7 separate regions of the Homo sapiens genome follow, and regions 1, 2, 3, 5, 6 and 7 are each linked to region 4. Evidence: fine-mapped expression QTL. A gene starts in region 4. Each other region holds a variant in brackets. All regions are shown on one strand. Distances are between the middles of the regions. Region 1 overlaps FAM222A (family with sequence similarity 222 member A). Region 2 overlaps ATP2A2 (ATPase sarcoplasmic/endoplasmic reticulum Ca2+ transporting 2). Region 3 overlaps GIT2 (GIT ArfGAP 2). Region 4 holds the start of TCTN1 (tectonic family member 1). Region 5 holds the start of MYL2 (myosin light chain 2). Region 6 has its middle 16 kb from the start of PPP1CC. Region 7 has its middle 29 kb from the start of CCDC63.

Region 1 (4,207 bases), 850 kb before region 4:
AATGTAGTTTAAATCCAATCTCGGAGAAAGATTCCCCCGTTGGCCAAAGTGACATTTCCATTCTCCACACCGAGTTTATTTTAGGCCACTTAGGAGGAGGCTGCCCCGGGCAGAGTCGGGATGGGGGTCCATGGCTGGGTCCACTTGCCCAGCCCCAGTGAGGCCAGATGAACGGAGAGCCACCTACTTCTTCACTCCCTGCTGCCCTGGCCAGGTCAGACCACACCCTTCACCCAGGGCAGAGGCAAATAAGCCCACTGAAGCTCATTTGCCTAGGCTCATAGGCCTGCCCATGCCTTACCCTGCTTAAAACCTCCCATGGCTGCCCAGTGCCCCACGTCGGGGCCTCTCCCCCTTTGGCCCTGCTGACAGTTGGGACTGGACCCTTTTCTGTGGCAGAGCTGTCCTGTGCATTGTAGGATGTTTAGTGGCATCCCAGGCCATGACCCACCCGATGCCAGTAGCACCTCTACCCCTAGCTGTGACAGCCAATCATGTCTCTACACACAGCCAGAGTGCCCCGTGCAGTGAGAGCCGCTTTCCTGCAGCGAAGAGGCCCTCCCGGCCGGCCACCTCTCTTGGGCTTCTCTCTGCAAGCCTGCCCCGGTGCCTCTCTCCTCCCGAGTCATTTGCAGTTCCCACCCTGACTACTTCTCTGCCTCAGGGCCTTTGCCTGGGCTGTTTACTCTGCCTGAAATCTGTTTCTCCCTCCCTTTTCACCTCTTCTACCAGTGGCCCAGGACTTAACCAGGATACAGTTCCTTTTGGGAAGCTGTCTCTGGACCCCCATGTCCCGCCACCGCCTGTTCCTCTCCATCCCATTTCACTTGGATTGGTTGTGAGCCCACGAGGTGTCAGGGACGATGCTTTAGAAGGTTGGGACATGGCCAGCAGCCTTCTGATCAGTGGGGAGGTAGCAGGGTCTGCACTCTATCCCCAGCTGCGATGCCAGTCCCACCTGTGCCTGTCTGAAGGGTGGCATGAGTCCCCTGCCCCTTTTCTGGGAGGGCCCTTTCTCTGGGCAGATGGGGAAGGTATTAATACTCACGCTCACAGAACACCAGCTTTTGTTAACGCCATCTACCGCACATGACCCGTCAAACCCTCCCAGCCATCTTGGGAAGTAGTATTAGCAGTAGCATCACCCCATTTTACAGATGAGGAAGCAGAGGCCGAGTGGTGAAGCTCCTCTCCCAGGCTCCCCTGAAAGTAATGAGCTCCAAGCACCTATCATGTACCTCACCCCCTACTGAGCCCCCGGCGCCTCCATTCCTTGAGGCCACCTTGGAGACCTGGCATGATCATGACCCTCATTCTACAGGTGGGAAAACAGGCTCAGCTGGGCAAACTACATGCCCAGGGCCATTCCATCTGCCTCATGGAACTCCACCACCACCACTCTCCATACCCCCTCAGCCCCGGAAAGCTGTGGGCTGCCCTTGGGAATGTCTCAGGACCAGGGAGGGGCTATGGATGGGGGCAGGAGTCTGCCCGCCATGGCCCTCCTTCCCCATGGCAGGGCCAGTTGTGTCCACTTATAGTGGGGACAGTCAGCCTGTAGCACAGAGCGTACCCTTCAGCCCCATGCAGGCGGCTCACTAAAAAGGCAGCAGCAGCCATGCTGGCCTTACAGGTGAACAGTAGACTCAAGGAGGGGCCAGGAAGCAAGAGGCAGCAGCTCGCCCTGGCGCTAAGCCCCATCTGCCGTGTTCACGTAGTAGCACACTTAACCAGCCAATGAGGTGGGCAGGGGGTCATCATCCCGTTTCACAGGTGAGGAAGGAAGGCATACGGAGGATAAAAGGGTTAGAAGGAAGGAATGTCCCCCAGAGTGGTGACAGAATGAAAGATGACACCAAGCACTGGCAGGTTGTGGGGCCACTGGAACTCCTGTGCTCTGCGGGTGGGAGTGTAGCCTGGCATGGTCTCACGGATAAATGGTCAGGCATTTTCTCCCGAAGCCGGGCAGGGGCATCTC[C/T]CCTGTGACCTAGAAATTCCATTCCTGGGTATATTTCCAACAGAACTCTGCATGCACTAGGGGCCATGGCACTGTATTTATTTACTTTTATTTTTTTGAGACAAGGTCTTGCTCTATCGGCCAGGCTGGAATGCAATGGCACAGTCACAGCTCACTGTAGCCTCCAACTCCTGGGCTCAGGTGATCCTCCCACCTCAGCCTCCAAAGTAGCTAGGACTATAGGCATGCACCATAATGCTTGGCTTCTTTTTTTTTTTTTTTTTTTTTTTTCTTATAAAGACAAGGTCTTGCTGTGTCACCCAGTCTGATCTTGAACTCCTGGGCTCAAGCGATCCTTCCACTTCAGCTTCCCAAAGTGCTGGGATTACAGGTGTGAGCCACCTCACCCAGCTAGAAACAACCCAAATGCCATCAAGAATAGAAAGGTTGGGCCAGGTGCAGTGGCTCATGCCTGTAATCCCAGCACTTTGGGAGGCTGAGGCAGGAGGATCACTTGAGCTCAGGAGTTTAAGACTGGCCTGGCCAACGTGGCGCAACCCCGTCTCTGCAAAAAATACAAAAATTAGCCAGGCATGCTAGCGCATGCCTAGGATCACTTGAGCCTAGGAGGTCGAGGCTGTAGTGAGCCATGACTGCACCACTGCACTCCAGCCTGGGTGACAGAGCAAGACCCTGTCTCTAAAAGAACAGAAACGATGAATAGATTGCGGCATAGTCACACAACAAATACCATACAGCGATGAGACAGACCAGACTACTCCCCACACAGCCACCTGGATGACTCTCACATAGTATGAAGTGACAGAAGCCAGGTGCAAATGAGTACATACTGTAGAATTCCATCTTACCACATACACAAACCAGGCACAACCAGTCCATGTTAGAAGTCAGGATAGTGGTTAGCGTGGTGTGGTTAGAGACTGGGAGGGGCCCAGGGACCCTACAGGGGATTAGCAATGTCCTGTCTCCTGGCCTGGGTACCATAAAACAGGTGTGTTCCTTTTGTGAAAGTCCATCAAGCTTATGATGCAGGCAGTTCCCTGCACTTTACACTGAAATTCGAAGTTTAAAAATGTAGAAGGAATAAGGAGTAAAATGAATGGGAAATGAGTGGAGGGGGCGGGACTCGTGAGCCCTGTGGGGAGAGGTTGGCATGGCCTCCTGATGGGCCCTCACACCTGCTTTCCTCCCACAGGCGAGGCGGTGGCCAGCGCCATGCATTCCTCCCGCTACCCGAGCCCAGCAGAACTGGACGCCTATGCCGAGAAGGTGGCCAACAGCCCGCTGTCCATCAAGATCTTCCCCACCAACATCCGTGTGCCCCAGCACAAGCACCTCAGCCGCACAGTCAATGGCTATGACACCAGTGGCCAGCGCTACAGCCCCTACCCACAGCACACCGCTGGCTACCAGGGCCTTCTGGCCATTGTCAAGGCCGCGGTTTCCTCCTCCAGCACGGCCGCACCAGCTGGGCCCGCCAAAAGTGTGCTCAAGAGCGCCGAGGGCAAGCGGACCAAGCTGTCACCGGCCGCCGTGCAGGTGGGCATTGCGCCCTACCCAGTGCCCAGCACTCTGGGTCCCTTGGCCTACCCCAAGCCACCTGAGGCGCCTGCTCCACCACCCGGCCTGCCCGCAGCCGCCACTGCCGCCTCCGTCATCCCCCTGCCGGGCCGGGGCCTGCCCCTGCCACCTTCCAACCTGCCCTCCATCCACAGCCTCCTGTACCAGCTCAACCAGCAGTGCCAGGCCCCGGGCGCCGCACCCCCTGCCTGCCAGGGCATGGCTATTCCCCATCCCAGCCCTGCCAAGCACGGCCCAGTGCCCAGCTTCCCCAGCATGGCCTACTCGGCTGCAGCCGGTCTGCCCGACTGCCGGAAAGGCACTGAGCTGGGCCAGGGAGCCACCCAAGCCTTGACGTTGGCTGGGGCCGCCAAGCCTGCAGGGTACGCAGACAGCGGCCTGGATTACCTGCTGTGGCCGCAGAAACCGCCCCCACCGCCGCCCCAGCCACTGCGTGCCTACAGTGGGAGCACGGTGGCCAGCAAGTCCCCTGAGGCTTGCGGGGGCCGGGCATACGAGCGGGCCAGCGGGTCACCCCTCAACTGTGGCGTGGGGCTGCCCACCAGCTTCACCGTAGGCCAGTACTTTGCGGCCCCGTGGAACAGTGTGCTGGTGACACCCACCAGCGACTGCTACAACCCAGCGGCGGCGGTGGTGGTCACGGAGCTG
Region 2 (4,207 bases), 320 kb before region 4:
GCTCACTGGACGTTGGTGGTGATTGGCATCTGTCAGGACTTGGTGGTCCTGGTGCCTCCTGTTTTTATTTTTCTTTTTGTCCTGCTCAAACAGATATTTCTTATTCATGCCGTCTTCTAATGAGTCATTTGGATTCATTATTGCCATAAATCATTTGGAGGAGTGTTTTCATGATTTACTAAGTAGATCTTTTAAAGAAGATTTTATTATGAAATATGCAAACATTTTAAGCAATTTTTTAATTAAAAAAAATTCGACCTCCAAGATTAAATCATTAGATGTGGTTAACACTGTTTCTGGATTGGTAAGTTTCCACAAAAAGAGGTTTTTAAATTTTTAACCACATAGACCACTCTTTACCATATTCATTATTCTTAGTATTCATTGTGGTGAGTTCTCTCTTTTTACCACGTTTATAGTTGTTGGATTGGGAAGTGCAGTGTGACTCTTACTTTGTAGTTTTTAAATCTTAACAAGTTTATAGTTGTATGAGCTAAAAGTTTAAACCTCTGCCCCATTTTCTTGGGGCAGTGTTCTGTGACCAGTTACATTTTTGGACTTAGGTTATCTCTGAAGTGCTGTGTTGCTGTATAAATGTCATATGGAGGATAACCTACAAAATACACTTCGGATCTCCCAACAGCTTTGCGGTTCTGAAACAGCCTTCAGTAGTACCACTGAAAAGAAACGGGGAATTAACTGGTTTTTTGTTTCTTTTATAGAGATGAGGGTCTCGCTATGTTGCCCAGGCTGGTCTCAAGCTCCTGGCATGAAATGATCCTCCTGCCTTGGCCTCCCAAAGTGCCGGGATTATAGGCATGAGCCACTGTTCCCGGCCTAGAATTAAACAGTTTATATATGCTCTAAAATTTAAGTCAGTGATCAAGTTGTTTATACTGTGGATTTATGTCACATGGATATTACTTGATATGAATAATAACTAAATGAACATGACTGTTAGATGATCACCTTTTACTTTAATCAAGAATTGAAGTTTTATTTTTTCTAAATAGATACATATAAAATGAATGGAATTTATTCCCTCTCCCCAGATTTTATTTGGATTCTAAAATGGAATTATTACATCAAAAGATAAGGTATTTTTAAGAAGTATAGTTGTTTTTTTGAGACTGAGTCTTGCTCTAACGCCCAGGCTGGTGTGCAGTGGTGCGATCTCAGCTCACTGCAACCTTTGCCTCCCAGGTTCAAGCGATTCTCCTGCCTCAGCTTCCCAACTAGCTAGGACTGCAGGTGTGCGCCACCACACCTGGCTAATTTTTTGTGTTTCTAGTAGAGGTGGTTTCACCTTGTTGGCCAGGGTGGTCTCGAATTCCTGACCTCAGGCGATCTACCTGTCTCGGCCTCCCAAAGTGCTGGGATTACAGACTTGAACCACCACACCCAGCCATGAAGTATAGTTTTTTGTTTGTTTTTTGAGTTTTGCTTTTGTTGCCCAGGCTGGAGTGCAATGGTGCGATCTTGGCTCACCGCAACCTCTGCCTCCCGGGTTCAAGCGATTCTCCTGCCTCAGCCTCCTGAGTAGCTGGGATTACAGGCATGCACCACCACACACTGCTAATTTTGTAATTTTAGTAGAGATAGGGTTTCTTCGTGTTGGTCAGGCTGGTCTCGAGCTCCAGACCTCAGGTGATCCCCCCGCCTTGGCCTCCCAAAGTGCTGGAATTACAGGCGTGAGCCATCGCACCCGGCTTTTTTTTTTGTTTTGAGACCGAGTCTTGCTCTGTTGCCCAGGCTGGAGTGCAGTGGCACGATCTCGGCTCACTGCCACCTCCGCCTCCTAGGTACAAGTGATTCTCTTGCCTCAGCCTCCCCAGTAGGTGGGATTACTGACACACATCACCATGCCCAGGTAATTTTTTTGTATTTTTAGTAGAGACGGGGTTTCGCCATGTCGGCCAGGCTGGTCTGGAACTCCTGACCTCAGGTGATCTGCCCGCCTCAGCCTCCCAAAGTGTTGGGATTACAGGTGTGAGCCACTGTGCCCAGCTGAAGTATAGTTTTGACTTTCAAGAATTCTTATGAACAAGACATAGCCAGTTGTTTATATAATTGCATTTTCTACCGTTTATTTCTAGAGAAAGAAAATAGATTTTGTCTATCATAATCCCTTTAGTGCTAGCCA[CT/C]TTTTTTTTTTTTTTTTTTTGAGTTTTCGCTCTTGCTGCCCAGGCTGGAGTGCAATGGCATGCAGTACACTCACGGCTCACTGCAACCTTTGCCTCCCCAGGTTCAAGTGATTCTCTTGCCTCAGCCTCCTGAGTAGCTGGGATTACAGGCACCTACCACCATGTCCAGCTAATTTTTTGTATTTTTAGTAGAGATGGGGTTTCGCCATGTTGGGCAGGTTGGTCTGGAACTCTTGACCTCAGGTGATCGCCTGCCTTGGCCTCCCAAAGTGCTGGGATTACAGGCCTGAGCCACCATGCTCGGCCAGTGCTAGCCACTTTTTAAAAAAGTGACATTAAGCCTAAAAAGACACATTCTAACGTGCCATTTCTCTTCTAGGTTTTGGCTTGGTTTGAAGAAGGTGAAGAAACAATTACAGCCTTTGTAGAACCTTTTGTAATTTTACTCATATTAGTAGCCAATGCAATTGTGGGTGTATGGCAGGTAAGCAAAAATTCCTGTACTGCAAAATTTCAATAAGTTATGTAAGTGATTAGGGCTGTATTAATCTTTCTGTTATCTGTTTTTCCTGATGTGTTGAGTAAAAATATGTTTGCGGGAAGTTTACATGTATTTTCCCTTTATTCCATAAATTAATTGTTTTCTGACACAGTCTCACTCTGTTGCCCAGGCTGGAGTGCAATGGTGTTGTCTCGGCTCACTGCAACCTCTTCCTCCCAGGTTCAAGTGGTTCTCGTGCCTCAGCCTCCCAAGTAGCTGGGACTACAGGCACGCACCACCACGCCCAGCTCATTTTTGTATTTTTTGGTAAGAGACAGGGTTTCACCATGTTGGCCAGGCTGGTCTTGAGCTCCTGACCTCAAGTGATCCGCCCTCCTCAGCCTCCCAAAGTGCTGGGATTACAGACGTGAGCCACCATGCCCGGCCTATTAATTTAATTAATTGCAAATTTTTGACCTTAATGCATATAAACTTTGCAGTTAAGATTGCTCATTCTTCGCCAAGTGTGGTGGCACCAGCCTGTAGTCTCAGCTACTCAGGAGGCTGAGGTGGGAGGGTTGCTTGAACCCAGGAGGTCAAGACTGTAGTGAGCCATGATCGTAACACTGCACTCCAGTCTGGGCAAAGGAGCAACACTGTCTCAGAAAAACATTGTTCATTCTTTACGGTAGCAAGGAATTAAAATGGGTGAGAGAAGCTGCTTAAGGAAATGAGAATGTGAGAACCATTATCTTTATGTCTCCTAGTTGCTTCCTGTGACAAACTTTAAAAGCTACATGTCATTTTTATTCTCCTTGGGTTTTTTTGGTAGGTTTAGCTATAAAAATTGTTTCCCCTTCAGTGCTTACTACAGACTCTGAGACTTAAAATTCATGTTAAGTGTTGATCTTTTAGGTATTTGACGGATATAATCACCCCTTTGAGGACTGAAGTAGACCTTTTTTTTGTTTTTGTTTTGAGACCGACTCTCTGTCGCCCAGGCAGGAGTGCAGTGGCACGATCTCGGCTCACTGCAACCTCCGCCTCCCAGGTTCAAGCAGTTCTGCCTCAGCCTCCTTGAGTAGCTGGGATTACAGGCACCTGACACCACACCCAGCTAATTTTTGTATTTTTAGTAGAGACGGGGTTTCACCATCAGGCTGGTCTCAAACCCCTGACCTCGTGATCCACCCACCTCGGCCTCCCAAAGTGCTGGGATTACAGGTGTGAGCCACCACTCCCGGCCTTTTTTTTTTTTTTTTTTTTTGTTTGTTTGTTTGTTTGTTTGTTTTGACCGACTTTCACTCTTGTTGCCCAGGCTGGAGTGCAATGGTGCAGTCTTGGCTCACTGCAACCTCCACTTCCCGGGATCAAGCAATTCTCCTGTCTCACCCTCCCGGGTAGCTGGGATTACAGGCACGTGCCACCATGCCCAGCTAACTTACTTACTTTTAATAGAGATGGGGTTTCATTTTGTTGGTCAGGCTGGTCTCAAACTCCTGACCTCAGATGATTCCCCCTGCCTTGGCCTCCCAAAGTGCTAGGATTACATGCGTGAGCCACCACGCCCGACACATCTTAT
Region 3 (4,207 bases), 640 kb before region 4:
GGAGAGCAGTGGCATGATCAGCACTCACTGCAGACTTGACCTCCTGAGCTCAAGTGATCCTCCCACCTCAGCCCCTCCTGAGTAGCTGAGACTATGGGCATGCACCACCATGCCTGGCTGCTTTCTATAAAATTTTTTGTAGTGAAAGGATCTTGCTCTGTTGCTTGGGCTGGTCTCAAACTCCTATGCTTAAGCGATTAGGAGAATTGCTTCAGGCTCCCTGAAGTGTTGGGATTACAGGTGTGAGCCATAGCTCCCAGCCCCTTTTGTTTTTTAATCCATTCTGAGAATCTCTGCTTTTCATTGATGTGTTTGGGTCATTAACATTTAATGTAACTATTGATATGTACGGACTTAAGTCTATAATGTTATTATTTATTTTCTATTTGGTCCTTAGTTTTTTGTTCTCCCCCTCCTCTTTTGAATATTTTGAATCAAAATATCTTTTGATGATTTGAGTAATTTTTAATACTCCATTTTCATTTACCTCTAGCATTTTTGATCACATATCTTTGTAGTCTTTTTTTTTTTTTTTTTTTAGATGGAGTCTCACTCTATCACCCAGGCTGGAGTGCAGTGGCATGATCTCGGCTCACTGCAACCTCTGCCTCCCGGGTTCAAGCAATTCTCCTGCCTCACCCTCCCAAGTAGCTAGGACTACAGGCACGTACCACCATGCCTAGCTAATTTTTGTATTTTTAGAAGAGACAGGGTTTCACCATGTTGGCCAGGATGGTCTCAATCTCTTGACCTCATGATCTGCCCACCTCAGCCTCCCAAAGTGCTGGGATTACAGGCACTACACCGTGCCTGGCTTGTAGTCTTCTTTCAGTGGTTATGGTAGAAATTACTATACACACACACACACACAAACACACACACACACAACTTTTCACAGTCTACTTAGAAATCCTATTTTACATTTCCAGTAGAAGGTAGAAATCTTACCATTATATTTTTTACCCTATCCCCTTTTATATTATAGTTGTCAAATATATTACACTGATATATGCTGAAAACCCTACTAGATAATTTTTTTTTTTTTTTTTTTGAGACGGAGTCTCACTCTGTCGCCCAGGTTGGAGTGCAGTGGTGCAATCTCAGCTCACTACAAGCTCCGCCTCCCGGGTTCACGCCATCCTCCTGCCTCAGCCTCCCGAGTAGCTGGGACTACAGGCGCCCACCACCACGCCCGGCTAATTTTTTGTATTTGTAGTAGAGACGGGGTTTCATCGTGTTAGCCAGGATGGTTTTGATCTCCTGACCTCGTGATCTGCCCACCTCGGCCTCCCAAAGTGCTGGGATTACGGGCGTGAGCCACCGCGCCTGGCGTTTTCTTTTCTTTTTTTTTTTTTTTGAGATGGAGTCTCCCTGTCGCCCAGGCAGGAGTGCAGTGGCACGATCTCGGCTCACTGTAACCTTTGCCTCCTAGGTTCAAGTGGTTCTCCTGCCTCAGCCTCCTGAGTAGCTGGGTTTACAGGCATGTACCACCATGCCCGGTTAATTTTTGTAGTTTTAGTAGAGACAGGGTTTCACCATGTTGGTCAGGCTGGTCTCAAACTCCTGATGTCAGGTGATCCGCCTGCCTCGGCCTGCCAAAGTGCTGGGATTACAGGCTTGAGCTACTGCACCTGGCTGACAATGTTACAGCTTTAAGATATGTATGACAATTTCAACTTTTTGTTTGTTTCTTGAGACAGGGTCTTACTCTGCCACATCTTTAACATTTCTGTTGTTTTTCTTTCATTCCTAAAGTTCCAAGATTCCCTCTGGCATCATTTCCCTTCCACCCAAAGAACTTTCTCTAGCATTTCTGTTAAAGTAAAGAATAATTCTTTTTTTTCCTGTTAGAATGTCCTTATTTTGCCTTCATTCCAAAGTTATTTTCATTGGATATAGAGTTCTGGGTTCACAGCTCTTTTCTTTTAGCACTTTAAAAGTATTGTTTCTACCATCACAAAGAAGATGAGAAAAAATAATAATAATAAAAAAGGAGCAGTGGCTCATGCCTGTAAT[C/T]GGGAGGCCCAGGTGGGTGGATTACTTGAGCTCAGGAATTCAAGACCAGCCTGGGCAACATGGTGAAACCCCATCTCTACAAAAAATACAAAAGTTATCTGGGCACAGTGGCACACACCTGTAGTCCCAGCTACTGTGGATGCTGAGGTGGGAGGATCACTTGAGCTCAAGAGGTTGAGGTTTCAGTGAGTCGAGATCACGCCACTGCACTCCAGCCTAGGCGATGGAGTGAGACCCTGTCTCAAAATAATAATAATAATAAAAGTATTATTCTGGCTGGGTGAGGTGGCTCATGCCTGCAGTCCCAGCCCTTTGGGAAGCCGAGGTGGGCGGATCACGAGGTCGGGAGTTCGAGACCAACCTGGCCAACATGGTGAAACCCCATCTCTACTAAATATGCAAAAATTAGCCGGGCATGGTGGCAGGCACGTGTAATCCCAGCTACTCAGGAGGCTGAGGCAAGAGAATCGCTTGAACCTGGGAGGCGGAGGTTTCAGTGAGCCAAGATTGCACCACTGCACTCCAGCCTGGGCAACAGAGAGATACTCCATCTCAAACAAACAAAGTATTATTTCATTTCCTTCTCATCTCTATGGTTTCTGATAAGAAATCCACAATCATTCAAATCACTGTTTTTCTATATATGTTATGTGTCACTTTTTCCTGGCTGCTTTCAAGATGTTTTCTTCAACTTTAGTTTTCAACAGTTTGATTTTGATGTGTCTCAACTGTGGATTTGAGTTTATCTTCTTTGGAATTTTCTAAGTTTCTTGAATCTGTAAGTTTATGTCTTTCACCAAATTTAGAGGTTTTTTTTTTTTTTTTTTTTTTTTGAGACGGAGTTTCGCTCTGTTGCCCAGGTTGGAGTGCAGTGGCTCAATCTGGACTCACTGCAACCTCTACCTCCCAGGTTCAAGTGATTCTTGTGCCTCAGCTACCTGAGTAGCTGGGATTACAGGTGCGCACCAACATGCCCGGCTACTTTTTGTATCTTTAGTAGAGATGGGGTTTCACCATGTTGGCCAGGCTGGTCTCAAACTCCCAACCTCAAATGATCTGCCCGCCTCAGCCTCCCAAAGTGCTGGGATTACAGGTGTGAGCCATTGAGCCTGTCCCAAATTTAGAGGGTTTTTTTGGCCAATATTTCTTCAAATACGTTTTCTGCACACACCACTCTTTCTCATCTCTTATTGGGAATCCAACGACATAAATGTCAGACATTTTAGTATTTTCCCACAGGTCCCTGAGACTCTGTTCAGTCTTTTCTTCCTACTCTTTTTTCCTCTCTGTTGCTTAAACCAGATAATTTCTAGTGATCTGTTTTCAATTCATTGACTTTCTTTGTCATCTCTATTCTTCTATTAAGCCCATCCAGTAAGTTTTAAATTTTTAGTGTTTGTATTTTTCAGTTCTAATATTCCTATTTGGTTCTCTTCTGTATCTTCTATTTCTCTGATGGGACTTTCTATATTCCTGTTTGTTTCAAGAATGTTTGCTTTTACTTCTTATAGCATGGTCTTACTAGCTGCTTTAAAATCTTTGTCTGATAACGCCAACATTTGTGTCATCTTGGGGTTGGCATCTGTTGGCTGCCTTCCCTGGCAAGTACATGAGAATTACTCAGATGTCAAGTCATTATGGATGATATCCTAGACACTGTGAATGTTTTGTTATGAGACTCTGGGCCTTCTTTAAACTTTATGCAAAAATGTTCATATTTTTGTCTTAGCAGGCAACTGACCAGGTGAGGTTCTGCCTCCTGGGCAGATGGTGAGAGAATAGAGAGAAAAAGACAAGCAATCAGGATCCCCCCTCATCCCCTTGCTCAGAGATTTAGGAACCTGTGCTGCCACTGCTGCTGCTGCTATTGCAGCCACAGGCTTGCCTAGGGGCTGGATGGGAGAGATCAGAAAAAGGAAGGAGGAGGAGGAAAAAACCCCAGGGGAATCCCCTTCCTCTCTGTCCTGTAGAAGTCCCATTTCCTGCTCTTTAACCAGAAAAAGGCTTTTTTTTTTTTTTTTTTTTTGAGATGGAGTCTCATTCTGTCACCCAGGCTGGAGTGCAGTGGCGCAATCTTGGCTCACTGCAACCTCTGCCTCCTGGGTTCAAGCAATTCTGCCTCAGCCTCCCGAGTAGCTGGGACTATAGGCGCCTGCCACCATGCCCAGCTAATTTTTTTGTATTTTTAGTA
Region 4 (4,207 bases):
GCTGGGATTACAGGCGTGAGCCACCATGCCCGGCCTACTTTTGGTTATTTTTTTTAAAAGGGGAAGCATTTAATCAGTTATTAAAAGCAGTCCAGAATTTCAGTCAGATGCTAAAGCAATCCTTTGCAGAAAAAAAGAAGTATCTGTCTTACACATTTGAGTGATTCAATTATATTTTTATACACTGTCTCTGGAATGCCACAGGAAGGTGCTAAAGATATCACTTTGATGATTTAGTTTTGCTAAATACATTTAATAAACTAGATATATATACTGTTTGACATCCTTTTGAATTGGTATATACATTTCTTGAATAAATACTGTGTTATGTTTAAGGTTTTTTTGTTTTGGAGTGCAGTGGCACTATCATGGCTTACTGCAGCCTCAAGCTCTCCAGACTGAGGCGATCCTTCCACCTCAGCCTCCTGAGTAGCTGGGACTACAGGAATGTGCCACCATACCTGGCTAATTTTTGTATTTTTTGTAGAGATGTGGTTTCACCATGTTGCCCAGGCTGGTCTCAACTCCTGGACTCAAGCGATCCTCCCAAAGGGCTGGGAGTACAGGTGTGAGCCACTGTGCCTGGCCACGTCTAAGTACTTCGACATCTACTTCTGAACTGTATGGAGATTAAGTGTCAAAGGTGCAGCCAACATTCTTGGGCTTGGGTACCTCCTAAATAAGCCCATTCAGAATGGAGAGGGTTTCCTAAATCGTAGGGTCTCCAGGTCGTTTTGTAGCATTACAGTGGATTTGCTTTGTTTTCCCCTTTAAGATGTCTAAATTATTTTACTTAATTTTTGTAAAAGATTTTTGTCTTTAAATAGGTTCTTAGGCCTGGCGTGGTGGCTCATGCCTGTAATCCTAGCTCTTTGGGAGGCTGAGGCGGGAGGATCACTTGAGGCCAGGAGTTTGTGACTAGCCTGATCAACATAGTGAGACCCCCTCTCTACAAAAAATAATAAAAGGTATTAAGTGTTCATTTGTCCCCTTTATCACAATACAGCAGACAGAAGTTATCTGGCAACCTTGTGAGATGCAGCTAAAATAAAAAGGTGAAGCCAGTGTTGACAGAGTCTGGGATAGAGAAAATTCAGAGACAGTGATCTCACAGATCCCTGTGCTCCTTCCAAACACCCACGTTAGTGGCGTTGGGACGGCGCTTCCTAAATTTCCGTCCAACTCATCTGCTTGCGTCCGGACATTTGTTAAAAATATTTATTCCTGGCTGGGAGTGGTGGCTCACGCCTGTAATCCCAACTACTCAGGACTCAGGAGGCTGGAGCAGGTGGATCACTTGAACCAGGAGTTCGATACCAGTCCGGGCGACGGAGGGAGACCTCGTCTTTACAAAAAAAAAAAAAAAAAAAAAAAAATACAAAAATTAGCTGGGTATGGTGGCGCGCGCCTGAGTTCCCAGCTACTCAGGAGGCTGAAGTGGGAGGATTGCTTGAGTCCCAGAGGTCGAGGCTGCAGTGAGCCGAGATCGCGCTACTGCACTCCAGCCTGGGCGACAGAGTGAGACCCTGTCTCAAAAAAAATCCCCCAAAAACTGATTCCTGGGTCCTGCCCTAGACTAACTGACTCAGGATCTCCTGAGGTGGTACCTGGAAATCCGTCTTTTTTTTTTTTTTTTTTTTTTTTGGTTGAGACAGAGTGTCACACTGTCGCCCAGGCTGGAGTGCAGTGGCACGCTCACGGCTCTCTGTAGCCTTCACCTCCCGGGTTCAAGCGATTCTTCTGCCTCAGCCTCCCGAGTAGCTGGAACTACAGAAAATCTGCATTTTTTAAGCAAGCGCCGCGGACCGGTTGGAAACCACAGCCGGGATTTACACGCCCCTCGTTTACGCCAGCTTCACACCCGCTCACTAGTGCTCGCCCCTGTGCCTGCCATCGCTGCCTCACCCAGGCGCCGCCCTCCGGCCTCATCCGGGATCCGCCCCCTGCCTCATCCAGGCTTCGCCCCAGTCAGTCTCCGGCAGCTTCTCGCGGCTTCGCAAGCCCCTTCCCGTGATGCCCCGCGCCTGGCTGTCGCGGTTGCCGGGCAACGCGCTGTCCATGTCGCGGGCCTCGCTGGGACTCCCTGGGAGATGAGGCCGCGAGGTCTCCCGCCGCTCCTGGTGGTGCTCCTGGGCTGCTGGGCCTCCGTGAGCGCCCAGACCGATGCCACCCCGGCGGTGACGACAGAGGGCCTCAACTCCACCGAGGCAGCCCTGGCCACCTTCGGAACTTTCCCGTCGACCAGGCCCCCCGGGACTCCCAGGGCTCCAGGGCCCTCCTCCGGCCCCAGGCCTACCCCAGTCACGGACGGTGGGTACCATGTGCCAGCTCCTGGAGTCCACAGTGATCCAACCTCAAGGGGACAGCCCCGGTGAGGACGTAATAATGATAGCTAACTCTTATTGAGCACTTACTGTGTGCAGACACTGCTGAGTGTTCCATAAACGTCCATTCTCTAAACAATAACCCTGAGAAGTAGCTGTTACTATCACTGTCAGGTAAATGAGAAAACCGGGTCTCAGAGTTTAAGTGGAACGGTATCAAACCTTTGAAAATACTTGAAGTGGTCCCAGACAACAGTGATGCAAAGAGCAATAATGAATTCTTGCAGCCCAAGACGAAATTAAGTCGAGACAATGGTGGAAATTAGTGCCTTGGCTGCACTGAACTTTCACTTAAAGAGAGGCCAAAGGTCTATCTTACTAAATGTGACTATGTTAAGACCCTTCTCTGTTGACCTGAATTCTAAAAACCCAGGATTCCTCCTGTGTTGAATTGGAGGTGGAAAGCTATTGAGGGAGGGGTTATGCTCACTTCTTAGGAGTCATATGTAGGGATAATTAACATTTTTTTCAGAAAATGATTAATTCTAGAATTACACATTTAGTGGAAATATTTTATAATCTAATTTGACGTTTGGCTGGCGCCGTGGCTCACGCCTGTAATCCCAGCACTTTGGGAGGTCAACTCGGGTGGATTGCTTGAGGTAGGAGTTCAAGATCAGTCTGGTCAAAATGGCGAAACCCAGTCTCTACTAAAAATAGAAAAAATAGCCGGGCATGGTGTAATCCTAGCTACTCGGGAGGCTGAGGCAGGAGACTCGCTTGAACCCAGGAGGCAGAGGTTGCAGTAATTACCACTGCACTCCAGACTGGGCGACAGAGCAAGACTGTCTCAAAAAAAAAAATTGACATGGATGACTTCACTGAATGACTGTGACCCGCTAAGATTGAGTGCAAAACTTTGTGAATATGCCTTTTCCTGAGATGAGAGTTCATAGCAGCCGATTCTTAAAGTGGTTCATGATCTCAAAAAAAGTTTTTAAAATTTTCCGATTGTGTGAATTGAGAGTAACCCCAATAGATATGCAGTACTTTTAATCTTTTTTTATTCTTTTTTTGTTTTTGAGACAAGGTCTCGCTCTGTTACCCAGGCTGGAGTGCAGTGGCGTGATTATATCTCACTTAAGTCTCAATCTGCTGGGCTCAAGGGATCCTTCTGCCTCAGCCTCCAGAGTAGCTGGAACCACAGGCGTGCTCCCCCAGCTTGCTTTTTTTATTTTTTTATTTTTAGTAGAGATGAGATCTCGCTATGTTGTTCAGGCTGATCTCAAACTCCTGGGCTCAAGTGATCCTCCCACCTTGGCCTTCCAAAGTGCTGGGATTACAGGTGTAAACAACTGTGCCCAGCCTATCCCTTCTTAAGAAGATCTTTTCTCAAATTGATTAAGGCTCAGTATTAGTAAGTAAAAAAGTCATCAGCTGAGATCTTGAACTCTAGGACTTAACTGCGGTTACTGAACCTTTATTTCTCCAAAAGCTCTCCTTTCTGAATTACGAGTAATCTGAAAGAAAAAGTACAGAGAAATATATTTGCTATTTTAATATATAAACAGAGCTCTGTTTTATATTTAAATTGTTGATTTGATGAATTAGTAGGGAAGTTAAATCAGTGATAAACTGGGACAGAAGAAAGCCAAGTATTCAATGCCTGAAACTCTAAAGTTTTTGGACTGGATTGTCTTTTATTCATGTAAGTACTCCATCTGTTAATGCATTTTCTCTCCAAAATAAAGCTATGCTTGAAACATCATTATTATAGCATGTGTTCAAGGCTGTTTTTCCAGTATAGGGGATGAATTTGTGCTTGTCCTCACACTTTATTTTTTTTTTTTTTGGTCACAGGGTCTCACTCTGTCACTCAGGCT
Region 5 (4,178 bases), 310 kb after region 4:
TGCTGGAGGGAGCAAAGGACATGACATGAAGTTTCTCCAGAGCCCTCTGGTACCAGTGGATCATAAGCGTTTGTGCATCTTGCAGTGGCTCCTTCACCAACTAGGAGAAGCCACAGGTGTGTCCCTGGGGATGGAGGCCACACCTTCAGATCGCCCCTGCAGGATCCAGCCACTTTTGTTCTGATGCATTTCACAAAAAGCTCAGTAATGCACAGAAGGAGAATTGATTGGAGGGAAAGAAAAAGTCAGGCTCACTAAGCCATGATGAATGCCAAGATGAAATGACAGTTCTTCAAGGTGTTAAAACCCAACTGCGCCCCACACCCCACAATTTTCCCTTGCTCCAAATGGCAGCAAAACCTCCTCTCTGAATGCTCCGTCCTTGCACCACATCAATAGGGCAGAGAAGAGCGAGTTGACCTTTCTTCCCCACCCCACTTCTCTCTGACTTTCAATAACAGCAAATGATTCGGTACTCTACATATGTATTATTTAATTCTCATAACCACTCTGTCAAGTGGATACTATTATTATCATCCCCATTTTACAGGAGAGGCAACTGAGGCTCAGAGAGGTTGGGTCACTTGCCCAAGATCACACAGCCACACACACAGAAGGCAGAGCCGGAGTTGAACTTGGGCGTTGAACTTGGGGAGTTGAACTTGGGCATTCTGACTCCAGAGTTCCTGCCTCTAACCACTCTCCCTCCTGTGCTGACCCTGATTTGGGGACTGCCCACTTCAGGAGGGGGACACCTAACCCAACAGCACAGAAAGAAAGGTTTTAAATTTGCAAGTTCAAAAGGTGAAAACAAAAACATTCTTTTTCCCAGCTGCCTGAACAAGAGAAAAGAATTACAATTTGATCCTTAAAAGCATTCAATCCCATTTTGCAAGTCCTGGGAGTTATTGATTCCTCGAGAGGTCAGTAGACAAGCCATAAAAAAGCCAACTCTCTTATTTTGTGTTTGTGAGTCCCCGAGAGCTGCTGTTATTTGTGGCCTATCGGGGCATTGATTGGGGTTCCTCTGTGCCCGCGCAGTCAATGGGGCTTTTTCCACAAGGGGCTGGAGGCTTTGAGGGCCGCCTTCCTCCCCCTCCGCCGTGGTCCCTCGCTTGTAGTGGCTTCCTCTCCTCGCCCACCCGGCATCATCACCTCCTGGAGCCCTTGTACTCACCATGGTGGAAAGGACCCAGCACTGCCTCCCGAGAAGAATTCCACACTCCGCCCAGCTCTCTGCAGCCCAGGAACAATAAATACTTCCTCCCCATGTTTAAAAATAACCCCATGACCGCTTTTGGCAGTCATAGGTGAGGCGGGCACCACCTAAGGCCCCCCCACCCCATGCCGTTCTTCTGAAGTAAGGGTGGCTCACTCGCCACTGGGTGACACGTGAGCCCCCAAAAAGGCATTCAAGGTTAAAGAGGCAGTAGCTGGGTCATGGTCACGGGGAGAGATGCTGCGCGCTCTCTGCGGTGCTTGGGCCGGGGACACTTGTGCTTGTCAATTTTGAGAAAAAAAATGGCAGGGAGAGGAGACTGCTAAAATGCTCTGTTTTATCAGCCTGGATCTGGCCTCAGGGTCTTTGCACCTGTGTGCCCTCTACCTGGAATGTCTTTCTGTCAGTCATCGCACGGCTCCTTCCTTCACCTCCTTCACTGCATCTTTGCTCATATGTCATCTCCTGAGTGAAGCCTCCCCGACCACCATCTTTAAAATAACCATGAAGGCTGGCACTGTGGCTCATGCCTGAAATCCCAGCACGGCGGGAGGCCGAGGCGGGAAGATTGCTTGAGCCTAGGAGTTTGCGACCAGCCTGGGTGACATAGGGAGATGCCTGTCTCTACGCAAAAGAAAAAAAAATAGCTGTGCGTGGTGGTGCATGCCTATAGTCTCAGCTATTCAGGAGGCTGGGACAGGAGGATCACTTGGGCCCGGGAGGTTGAGGCTGTGGTGAGCCACGATCACACCACTGCACTCCAGCCTGGGTGACAGAGCAAGACCCTGTCTCAAAACAAACAAATAACACAGCCACGCACCTCCTGCGCTCCGATCTCCCTTCTTTGTTTCTCTGCACAGCGTGAGGCAGTCCCGAACACTGCCCACAGTGCACTGACTCATTTTCTTCAGCATCTGTGGAGCGTCAGCTCAGAGGGCAGGGATCACTTTAGTTTCCCTCACCACTGACTGTCTCCCCAGCTCCCAGCTCATGATGCACACAGCAGCAGCTCAAAAATAAATATTTGTTGACTGAAGAAATGACAAATCTCATTGACTGAGCACTGGCACGTGCCGGACACTATGTGCTCATGGCTCCCACACATAATTTTCCAGCCACCCTAGAGGGTGGGGACCACCTCATCATCCATGCCCCCATTTTACAGATGCGGAAACAAAAGCTCAGAGAGGCGAAGTGAGCTGCCCAGGGTCACACAGTGATGGAGCTAGGCGTGGACCCCTCTGGAGGCCCCTTTGT[C/T]TCCAGAGTCCAGGCTCTTTAAGAGCCTTGAAAACAGCAGCTGCTCTCAGAATGCAAGGTGTCATTATATAATACTTTTACTGAAGACAGCTTTCCTGCTGGGTGCAGTGGCTTATACCTGAAATGCCAGCACTTTGAGAGGCTGAGGCGGGTGGATCACTTGAGTCAGGAGTTCAAGACGACCTTGGCCAACATGATGAAACTTGTCGCTACTAAAAATACAAAAATTAGCCAGGCGTTGTGGCGCGGGCCTGTAGTCCCAGCTACTCAGGAGACTGAGGCAGGAGAATCGCTTGAGGCCGAGAGGCAGAGGTTGCAGTGAGCCGAGATAGCGCCATTGCACTCCAGCCTGGGCGACAGAGTGAGACTCTGACTCAAAAAAAAAAAAAAAAAAAAAAAGGACGGGCATGTTGGCTCACACCTAGCACTTTGGGAGGCCGAGGCGGGTAGATCACCTGAGGTCAGGAGTTCAAGACCAGTCTGGCCAACATGACAGAACCCCATCTCTACTAAAAATACAAAAATTAGCTGGGCGTTGTGGCACATGCCTGTACTCCCAGCTACTTGGGAGGCTAAGGCAGGAGGATTGCTTGAACCCAGGAGGCGGAGGTTGCAGTGAGCCGAGATCGTGCCATTGCACTCCAGCCTGGGCGACAGAGCAAGACTCCATCTCAAAAACAAAGACCAAAAAAACCCCAAACTAAACCAAAACAACAAAAGATGGCCATCTTCCTGTGCCCTTAAAGACAGCCTTGGGATTCAGGGAGCAAGAACTCGGGGCTTGGAATCATTGTGGTTATTTAGTGTCCGTGGGTGGCAGGCCTGAGTGCCAGAGGCCACACCTCTAAGAAGGAGAATGTCCCTCTGCCCTCCCAGTAGTGTGGGTGCGGGGCTGATGGCTGAACCAGCATTCATTCCCCTTCATCGAGCCCAGCGCAAAGCAACAAATTCCCTTCCCTTGAGGTGCGTAAGTGCGAGGGGAAGATGGACAAGGAGAAAGTAAACAAATGCACAACCCAGACAGTTGCAGGCAGTGACGGATCTCATGCAGGGATGAGACAGAGGCATGGCAGTGGCCAGGTGACAGCCTCAGACAGGGGCGCAGGTGGGCTCCTCCAAGCAGAGTCTGCAAAGGGGGCTCCAGGCAGTGGGGACAGCACATACCTCAAGGCAGGGAGAATTTGGAGGCTTTGAGGAACAGAAGGCCCCCTGGGGCTGGAGTTTTCCAGAGCTTAAAAAAAGAAATCACTTTTCTTATTAGGTTTTCCAGAGGGTAAAAGGAGGTGAGACCTGGCAAATGGTAGCTATCACTCACTCCCCTTCTCAGGTGGAAAAATAATCTCAATTTGGGGGCACACAAACCCAAGGACCATTGATGGCTGTGACAAAAAAAGGTGTGGGTTTTTTTCTTCTCTGCAGTCCCACATGGGTTAGAGTTACCCAGGACACTCTTCTGACAGATCTTTAATAACAAAAGATGTGTTCATGTGTGTGTGTAGGCACATGCATGCACAGACAAAAACACGTCTGCACATGCATAGAGGCACACAGACACGTGCATGTACACGCATCCACATATGTGCAGTGCACACATCAAGAGGAGCTTTTCTGTCCAAGGTTCTCTGACAACACCAGAATAAATGTTTCCCTAGCTAATAGGCACACCATAGATTTTCGTTAAAACCCTGTGTGAGCAGTCAGT
Region 6 (4,207 bases), 140 kb after region 4:
CTCTGTTCAACTGTCACCCTGGCAGAGAGGGTTTCCCTGACCACCGGAATAAAATGCTCCCTAGCCCTCAATCCTTCCATCACACTTTTTCTTTTTGAAACAGGGTTTGGTACAGTCACCCAGACTGGAGTGCAGTGGCACGATCAGGGCTCACGGTAACCTCATCCACCCAGGCTCAAGTGATTCTGCAGCCTCGGCCTCCTGAGTAGCTGGAACCACAAGCACAGAGCACTGCACTCGGCTAATTTTAAAATTTTTGGGCCTGGCGCGGTGGCTCATGCCTGTAAACCCAGCACTTTGGGAGGCCGAGGCGGATGGAACACTTTAGGTCAGGAGTTCAAGACCAACCTGGCCAATGTGGTGAAACCCCGTGTCTACTTAAAAAAATTAGCTGGGTGTGGTGGTGCATGCCTGTAATCCCAGCTACTCGGGAGGCTGAGGCAAGAGAACCCCTTAAACCCGGGAGGCAGAGGTTGCAGTGAGCCGAGATTGCTCCATTGCACTCCAGCCTGGGCAACAAGAGTGAAAAACTGTCTCAAAAAAAAAAATTTTTTTTTTTTGTAAAGACAGAGTCTCACTATATTGTTCAGGCCGGTCTCGAACTGCTGGGCTCAAGCAATCCTCCTGTCTTTGTCTCCCAAAGTGCTGGGATTATGGGCATGAACCACTGCACCCAGCCCCCTTCCCATTTTTCTGTTTTTCTCCATGTGATTCTTCACTGCCTGACATTGTGTTATGTCTTTGATTGCCTGTTTTCTGTTTCCACGTGGGTGGGGATTTTTGTCTGCTTGCTATTCTTGCTTTTGTGCCTGGGCCCGTGCCTGGCACATACAAGGTATTCAGTAAAAAATTCTTGAATAGGCCAGGCATGGTGGCTCATGCCTGTAAATCCCAGTACTTAGGGAGGCCAAGGTGGAAGAATGGCTTCAGGCTAGGAGCTCAAGACCAGCCTAGCAACATAGTGAGACCCTGTCTCTACAAAAAAATTTAAAATTAGCCAGGTGGGGTGGGTGCACTGTAGTACCAGCTACTTACGAAGCCGAAGCAGGAGGATCGCTTGAGCCCAGAAGTCAAGGATGCGGTGAACAGTGATCATGCCGCTGCTCTCCAATTTGTGTGATAGAGTGAAACTCTGTTTCTAAAATAACAACAAAAAAAGTTGAATAAACATAAACAAATGGGCCAGGTGCAGGCTCACGCCTGTAATCCCAGCACTTTCGGAGGCCTAGGTTGACGGATCATGAGGTCAGGAGTTCGAGACCAGCCTGACCAACATGGTGAAACCCCGTCTCTACTAAAAATACAAAAATTAGCCAGGTGTGGTGGCACGTGCCTGTAATCCCAGCTACTCGGGAGGCTGAGACAGGAGAATCACTTGAACTCGAGAGGTGGAGGTTGCAGTGAGCCGAGATCACGCCACTACACTCCAGTCTGGGCAACAGAGCGAGACTCCATCTCAAAAACAAACAAACAAAAAACAACAAAAACACAACATTATAGTTGTAAAATTGGGATAATAGTTGGGGAAGAATTGAATGAAGTAATGCAGGTAAGAGCTTAACACAGCACTGGGCTCCCAGTGGGTATGCGTGGGAACCTTGCTATTCACCTCACATCACAGGCCTGGCAGGGCCTGGGAGCTGATGGCTGTTTCTAGGAGGAAGAAAGGCCATTTGTGGGCCATCTCACGGGGCAGAACAGGCCTCTCTCTGGCCCAAGAGTGCCCATCACTGCAGCCGCCGGGGCAAGGGACAGTCTCTTTTTGACTTTGCTGCTTTATAGATTAAGGAAGAGAAACCACCCGAGGGAGTTAAGGCTG[G/GA]AAAAAAAAATCTTAATTATTTTGACAGTGGGAGTGGGAGAGGGAAACAAATGGCTCATTATTGATTTAATTTTCCAAAGTCCAAAATCAGCATGGCAACATCACCAAGGTAAATAAAAATTAAAAGAATAATCATCCCTCTCCTTTCATACTCATTCTATGTATTTGTTGCTGTTTATTTCTTTGTTTTGTGCTTATGTTTAAAGATAAAAACAAAATAACCTGTTGCAAGTTGGGTTTTCCAGAAGCAGGCACTGAGATGTATGACAGGCTTTGAAAATATACAATGATTTATTTATTGTTCAGTGTAAAAAGTCACGTTGCAGAGCAGTATATAAGTCATAAACCTGTTTGTGTAAAATAAAAAAGTATGAGGTGGTTATATATCCTTGTCTAGGCAGAGAAAATTTCCGGTAGGGGGCTGGGCAGAGTGGCTCACACCTGCAATCCCAGCGCTTTGGGAGGCTGAGGCAGGTTGATCGCTTGAGCCCAGGTTTTCAAGACCAGCCTGGGCAACATAGCAAGACCCTGTGCAGTGGCTCACGCCTGTAATCTCAACATAGCGAGACCTCAACAATAAAATAAAAATCTCAACAATAAAAATAAATTTAACAAAAAGAAAATTTCTGGCAGGATATACACAAAATGTCAACAGTGGGGAGTGTGGCTGGCTGGGAATAGGTGCTGGTGTTCCCCTTGTTATCTTCTATACTCTTTGAATTGTTTTAAAAGTATCAGACAGATATTACTTACATAATAAAAATTTCAGATTAAAATGTTGGTCATGATTTTTGGTCTACCTTTTAAAAATTTTTAGCAGTTTACTGTCCATGTTTGAATAATGCAAATACAATATGTGCTATGGGCTGAACTGCATCCTCCCAAAATTCCAAGGTTGAAGTCTTAACCCCTAGAACCTCAGGATGTGATTGTATTTGGAGATAAGGCCTTGGAAGAGGTGACTGAGTTAGATTGGGGTCATTAGGGTAGGCCCTAATCCAATATGAATGACGTTCTTATAAGAAGAGAGATTAGGGTCCGGGTGTGGTGGCTCATGCCTGTAATCCCAGCACTTTGGGAGGCCGAGGTGGGCAGATCATGAGGTCAGGAGAGCGAGACCATCTTGGCTAACACAGTGAAACCCCATCTCTATTTAAAAAAAAAAAATTAGCGGGGCATGGTGGCGGGTACCTGTAGTCCCAGCTACTTGGGAGGCTGAGGCAGGAGAATGGTGTGAACTGGGGAGGTGGACCTTGCTGTGAGCTGAGATCGCGCCACTGCACTCCAGCCTGGGTGACAGAGCGAAGACACATTAGGCCAGGCATGGTGGTGCATGCCTGTAATCCTAATCCCAGCACTTTGGGAGGCTGAAGCAGGAGGATTGCCTCAGCCCAGGAGTTTGAGACCAGCCTGGGCAACATGGTGAGACCCCATCTCTAAAAAAAAAAAAAAAAAAAAAATTAGCCTGGTGTGGTGATGTGTGCCTATGGCTTATGGCCCTAGCTACTCAGGTGACTAAAGAAAGAAGAAAGAAGAGAGATTAGGGGCCAGGCATGGTGGCTCACTTGAGAGTGTCACTTGAGTCTGGGAGATCAAGGCTGCAGTGAGTCATGATTGCACCACTGCACTCCAGCCTGGGTGACAGAGCAGAAAAAAAAAGAGCGATTAGAACACAGCAAACACACACAGAAGAAGACCCTGTGAAGACAGGTGGAAGACGGTCATCTAAAGCCAGGGAGAGAGCCTCAGAATGAAACTGCCCTGCTGACACCTTCGTCTTGGACTTCCAGCTTCCAGAACTGCGAGGAAATAAATTTCTGTTGCTTAAGCCACCTGGCTTGTGGTATTTTGTTGTGAAAGCTCTAGCAGACAAATATAATGTGTTAAATATTTAGAAAACATGGAAACGTGGAAAGGATGAAATCACACATAATTCTACCATCCAGCAAGACCCACAGCAAGATGCTGCTTCTGGCTCAGAGTGAAGTTGCCGGGGGCTTGGTGTCCATGCTCCTCACCTCACCACTTGCCTTCGGAAAGCTGGGGGTAGATTTAGCATCTGAAGAGCCTGCCTCCACACAAATGGGATGGCAGGGCAGTTTGGCCCTTTCAGCTTGCTATGGACTTTCTATGAAAAGGTGATGCTTCCTTCTATAAGGTCATAAAATTCCATACACCAGAGAATTTGAGTGTGACATGATTTAGAGCAGGAGATGGTAACTTTTTCTGTAAAGCTCCAGATAGAAAATATTTTTGACTTTTGCAGGCCCAGTGGTCTTTGTCATGAATACTCATCTGCCAATGTAGCATGAAAGCAGTCTTTGACAATACATCAAAGAATGAATGAGTGTGGTTGTTTCCTAATAAAACTTTATTTACAAAAATGTG
Region 7 (4,207 bases), 200 kb after region 4:
TCAGAAGGCGGTTAACACCATCTGGCCTTGAGAATTCTGAGTCTTTATATTTCAGGATTGAGCTGAGACCTTTGTGAAACATCATCTCTGGGAGGGCCAGCCTGGGCCCAGCTCACAGACATAAGCTGTCCTCATATCCCAACTTCTCATTGACTCACACACGCACTCAGTGCTTTATTGAGCACCTAGTGTGTGTCAGTTGCTGGGCAAGGTGCCAGGGCTGTACTGTAGCAAGGAAAACAGGAGACAAGGTCCCTGCCATCATGAAGCTCATGTGCTACAGGGAGTGACAGACAGCAGGTAAGTAAACAATAACAAATGAATATATAATAGCAGAGAAAAATAACAGCAATGGAAACAAGCAAAGCAGGGGAAGAGGGTTAGACAGTGACTGGGATGGGGAGGTGGATGGTATGTGAGTATTTTAAACTCAAGGAGGTGCTTCTTCCTGGGATGCTCTGGGATATTCTGGGATACCTGAGATAGCCAGGTAAAATCCACTAGGAATTCGTTGCTGACACTGAGGCAGGAGAATAGCGTCTGCAGGCAGGGAAACTAAGGTCAGTTCATGCTGACTTCCTAGAACTAAATCAAAAGGAAAGTCCCAACTTTCCAAGCCCAAGTAACAAAAGGACCAGAGGAACAAAGGACCAGAGGCTGGACTGTGCCCAGCCTGTTCTTCCTACAATCTTTATGCAGATATAGATGAATGTGAAAACAAGAGAGTTTTAAAAAGTCTGAAAGGAGCTAGTTAGAATGTCAATAGAGGTTGCTCACAGAACTGTAAGAGGCAGAGGAGATAGAGGGTGGAACTTCGTTTCTGAGCCTGGCTGCCTGGGTTCATATCCTAGCCTTGCCACTTGCTAGCTGTGAGAAGAGGGCAAATCACTTCACCTATGTATGCCTCAGTTTCCTCATCTGTAAAATGGTGCAATAATGACATGCAGGTATGAGATTATCTTCCTATTTATAAAGCACTTCCAACAGATCTAGTACGTAATGAATCCAATCTAAGTGTTTTTTTCTAACTGTGTTGAAACAAGTGGGCATGAAAAGATTCCTTTTCCACCCTGAGCTACAGATTGAGAAGTTTTTGGGGCTGGGTTCTGCTACCTGTATTAAATATATTTTTTTAAATTAAAAACCTTTTGTTATAGAAAATGTTGAACATACATGAAAGTAGAGAGAATGTTACCTTTTTTTCTAAATTGAGATGGAGTCTCGCTCTGTCGCCCAGGCTGCAGTGCAGTGGCGCGATCTCGGCTCACTCCAAGCTCCGCCTCCCAGGTTCACGCCATTCTCCTGCCTCAGCCTCCCGAGTAGCTGGGACTACAGGCGCCCGCCACCACACCTGGCTAACTTTTGTTTTTGTATTTTTAGTAGAGACGGGGTTTCACCGTGTTAGCCAGGGTGGTCTCGATCTCCCGACCTTGTGATCCACCCGCCTCGGCCTCCCAAAGTGCTGGGATGAGCCACCCACTACAGGCGCCCACCACCACGCCCGGCTAATTCTTTGTATTTTTAGTAGAGATGGGGTTTCACAGTGTTAGCAAGGATGGTCTAGATCTCCTGACCTCATGATCTGCCCGCCTTGGCCTCCCAAAGTGCTGGGATTACAGGCGTGAGCCACCGCGCCCGGCCAGGTGTTTGTTTTTATCCTCCTATTTTTTCCATTTCTAGCACTTTCCATATCTGTAAAATAGGATTAATAATAGTACCTATCTCATAGGGTTATTGTGAGAATTAAATGAATTAATGCTTATAAAATGCTTATAAAATGTTAAAAAACACGGCCTCCCAAAGTGCTGGCATGAGCCACCATGCCCGGCCACAATTTTTTATTTTGTTTCTTTTCTTTTAAGACAGAGTCTTGCTCTGTCGCCCAGGCTGGAGTACAGTGGCACCATCTCAGCTCACTGCAACCTCTGCCTCCTAGATTCAAGTGATCCTCCTGTCTCAGCCTCCCGAGTAGCTGGGACTGCAGGCATGTGCCACCATGCTCCACTAATTTTTTGTATTTTTAGTAGAGATGGGGTTTAACCATGTTGGCCAGGCTGGTCTTGAACTCCTGACCTCAAGTGCTCCATCTGCCTTGGCCTTCCAAAGTGCTGGGATTACAGGCATGAGCCACTGCACCTGGCCTATTTTTTTATTTTCTTGAGACATGGTCTCCCTCTTTTACCTAGGCTGGAGTGCAGTGGCACGATCATGGCTCAGTCACCTCAAACACCTGGGCTCATGGGATCCTCCCACCTCAGCCACCTGAGTAGCTCAGACTATGGGTGTGCACTACTGCACCCAGCTAATTTTCTAATTTCTTTTGTAGAGACGGGGTCTTGCTATGTTGCCAGGGCTGTTCTTGAATTCCTAGGCTCAAGAGATCCTCTTGCCTCAGCTTCCCAAACTGCTGGAATTATAGGCATGAG[C/T]CACCTTCCTTGGCTCAGAATATTATAATTAACCTTTGTACACCCATTGTTCATGTCAATGATTAGCAACTCATGGTGACACCTGCATTTTTAACAAGGCCCTGGTGCACACTACATCTTGAGAAACCCCCAGTGGAATTCCAGGACGCTCCTGAGGCTGTTACTGGAAAGGGGTCCCGATCCAGACTCCAAGAGAGGGTTCTTGGATCTCTCGGAAGAAAGAAGTCGAGTGAGTCCATAGAGTAAAGTGAAAGCAAGTTTATTAGGAAAGTAAGGGATAAAAGAATGGCTACTCCATAGACAGAGCAGCCCTGAGGGCTGTTAGTGGCCCTATTTTTATGGTTATTTCTTGATGATATGCTAAACAAGGGGTGGATTATTCATGCCTCCCCTTTTTAGATCATATACGGTAACTTCCTGACATTGTCATGGCATTTATAAACTGTCATGATGCTGGTGGGAGCGTAGCAGTGAGGACGACCAGAGGTCAAGTCTTGTTGCCATCTTGGTTTTGGTGGGTTTTAGCCGGCTTCTTTATTGCAAACTGTTTTATCAGCCAGGTCTTTATGACCTGTATCTGCCTACCTCCTATCTCATCCTGTGACTTAGAATACCTTAACCATCTAGGAATGCAGCCCGGTAGGTCTCAGCCTCATTTTACTCAGCCCCTATTCAAGATGGAGTTGCTCTGGTTCACATCCCTCTCACAAGGCCTGTTGGATACATGTTAGTTTGTTGGGATTTTGCTAGACAAATTGCTAATCTTGAAATCAGAAAAGATGATAACAAAAAACTTTTTTTCTCTCCCAAGAAAAATTTTGTCTGCTCCTAAGAAGAGGATTTTCTGTCCAAGTTCAGTGGACGAGAGCACCAGACACCCCCTGGAAAGACTCAAGATTCCAGCCCTGTCCTGTGGTCCCTTCAACTGACAGCAACCACTCACTCCCCAGCCCCACTTACTATCAAGGGAGCCCAGGGCCTGCTTCACCCAGGCCCTGGGAACAAGATTTGAGAAGCAAATGAATTGTGTGAGTTAATTCAAGGGCCACCTTTGGCTCCCTTAGCAGCACAAATTGTCCCTGAGGACATTGACTCGATTCTTGGATACAAAGGGAGATACGAATTTACCTTTGACTGCTCTCTGGGCATTAAAGCTGGTCTTGAATGTTTTCTCTGGGCGGTTCCCTGTCATTAGGGAGGTGCCCACATTTACCAAATCAACGAGCCCGATTTCACCTGGTCACACCCTTCCTTGGCACAGAAAACAGTGACTTCTTTTTCCTCCTGCTAATTTGCTGTCAAGATGTTCTACTAATCATCATCATAATTACTAATATTCACTGCCCACTTAGTAAGCTCTTTATACCCATTAACTCAATTCATTCTTGCAACGACCTTGTGAGGTGAAACTATTGTTACCCACAGATCACAGAAGAGGACACCGAGGCCTACAGAACTGTGGCAAAGACTGCTCCATGTTCCCAACATCCATTTTTTTCCCTCTTTCAAAGTAAAAGAAATCCAATTTTACTAGGGAACATGGCTGTCCAGAATTCCCAGCCTCCTTTGTGGGTAAGTGTGGCCATGGGACTCTGGTATGGGCTAAGGATGTCGGGGGAAGAGTCCCGCAGTGGTTCTGAAACACTCTCTCTAAGAGGTCACTGCTTCTTCATCCCTTCTTTTATTCTGGCATCTGGAACTTGAAGGCCACCATCTTGAACTGCGACGTAGGAGTGCCCTGAATGGAGGTGCATCTGGCTGGGAGGATACCATTGACCACC

Evidence for each region.
Region 1: its variant is fine-mapped to the expression of TCTN1 in whole blood (TOPMed, PIP above 0.99).
Region 2: its variant is fine-mapped to the expression of TCTN1 in whole blood (INTERVAL, PIP above 0.99).
Region 3: its variant is fine-mapped to the expression of TCTN1 in whole blood (TOPMed, PIP 0.91).
Region 5: its variant is fine-mapped to the expression of TCTN1 in tibial artery (GTEx, PIP above 0.99).
Region 6: its variant is fine-mapped to the expression of TCTN1 in whole blood (TOPMed, PIP above 0.99).
Region 7: its variant is fine-mapped to the expression of TCTN1 in unexposed skin (GTEx, PIP above 0.99). The same link has a PIP of 0.9 or more in whole blood.

What each region holds. Positions count from the first base shown.
Region 1 is chr12:109,764,839-109,769,045 of GRCh38, forward strand. It overlaps FAM222A (family with sequence similarity 222 member A), which reads left to right. Exons shown (of 3, transcript NM_032829.3): 3 at 3,174-4,207. The region is part of intron 1 of FAM222A-AS1 (FAM222A antisense RNA 1); the gene reads right to left. Among named protein-coding and RNA genes, the nearest start is that of FAM222A-AS1, 6.5 kb to the right of the region's middle. The variant C/T (reference allele first, on the strand shown) is at 1,979.
Region 2 is chr12:110,289,497-110,293,703 of GRCh38, forward strand. It overlaps ATP2A2 (ATPase sarcoplasmic/endoplasmic reticulum Ca2+ transporting 2), which reads left to right. Exons shown (of 20, transcript NM_170665.4): 4 at 2,524-2,628. Among named protein-coding and RNA genes, the nearest start is that of ATP2A2, 10 kb to the left of the region's middle. The variant CT/C (reference allele first, on the strand shown) is at 2,144.
Region 3 is chr12:109,975,252-109,979,458 of GRCh38, forward strand. The region is part of intron 7 of GIT2 (GIT ArfGAP 2); the gene reads right to left. The region is part of intron 1 of LOC124903013 (a long non-coding RNA gene); the gene reads left to right. Among named protein-coding and RNA genes, the nearest start is that of GIT2, 19 kb to the right of the region's middle. The variant C/T (reference allele first, on the strand shown) is at 2,017.
Region 4 is chr12:110,612,093-110,616,299 of GRCh38, forward strand. It overlaps TCTN1 (tectonic family member 1), which reads left to right and starts at 2,037. Exons shown (of 15, transcript NM_001082538.3): 1 at 2,037-2,310. The coding sequence starts at 2,091. RefSeq lists an enhancer at 2,314-2,363.
Region 5 is chr12:110,919,350-110,923,527 of GRCh38, forward strand. It overlaps MYL2 (myosin light chain 2), which reads right to left and starts at 1,230. Exons shown (of 7, transcript NM_000432.4): 1 at 1,178-1,230. The coding sequence starts at 1,180. RefSeq lists an enhancer at 1-2,038. The variant C/T (reference allele first, on the strand shown) is at 2,477.
Region 6 is chr12:110,756,898-110,761,104 of GRCh38, forward strand. No RefSeq gene overlaps it. Among named protein-coding and RNA genes, the nearest start is that of PPP1CC, 16 kb to the left of the region's middle. The variant G/GA (reference allele first, on the strand shown) is at 1,820.
Region 7 is chr12:110,816,239-110,820,445 of GRCh38, forward strand. No RefSeq gene overlaps it. Among named protein-coding and RNA genes, the nearest start is that of CCDC63, 29 kb to the right of the region's middle. The variant C/T (reference allele first, on the strand shown) is at 2,427.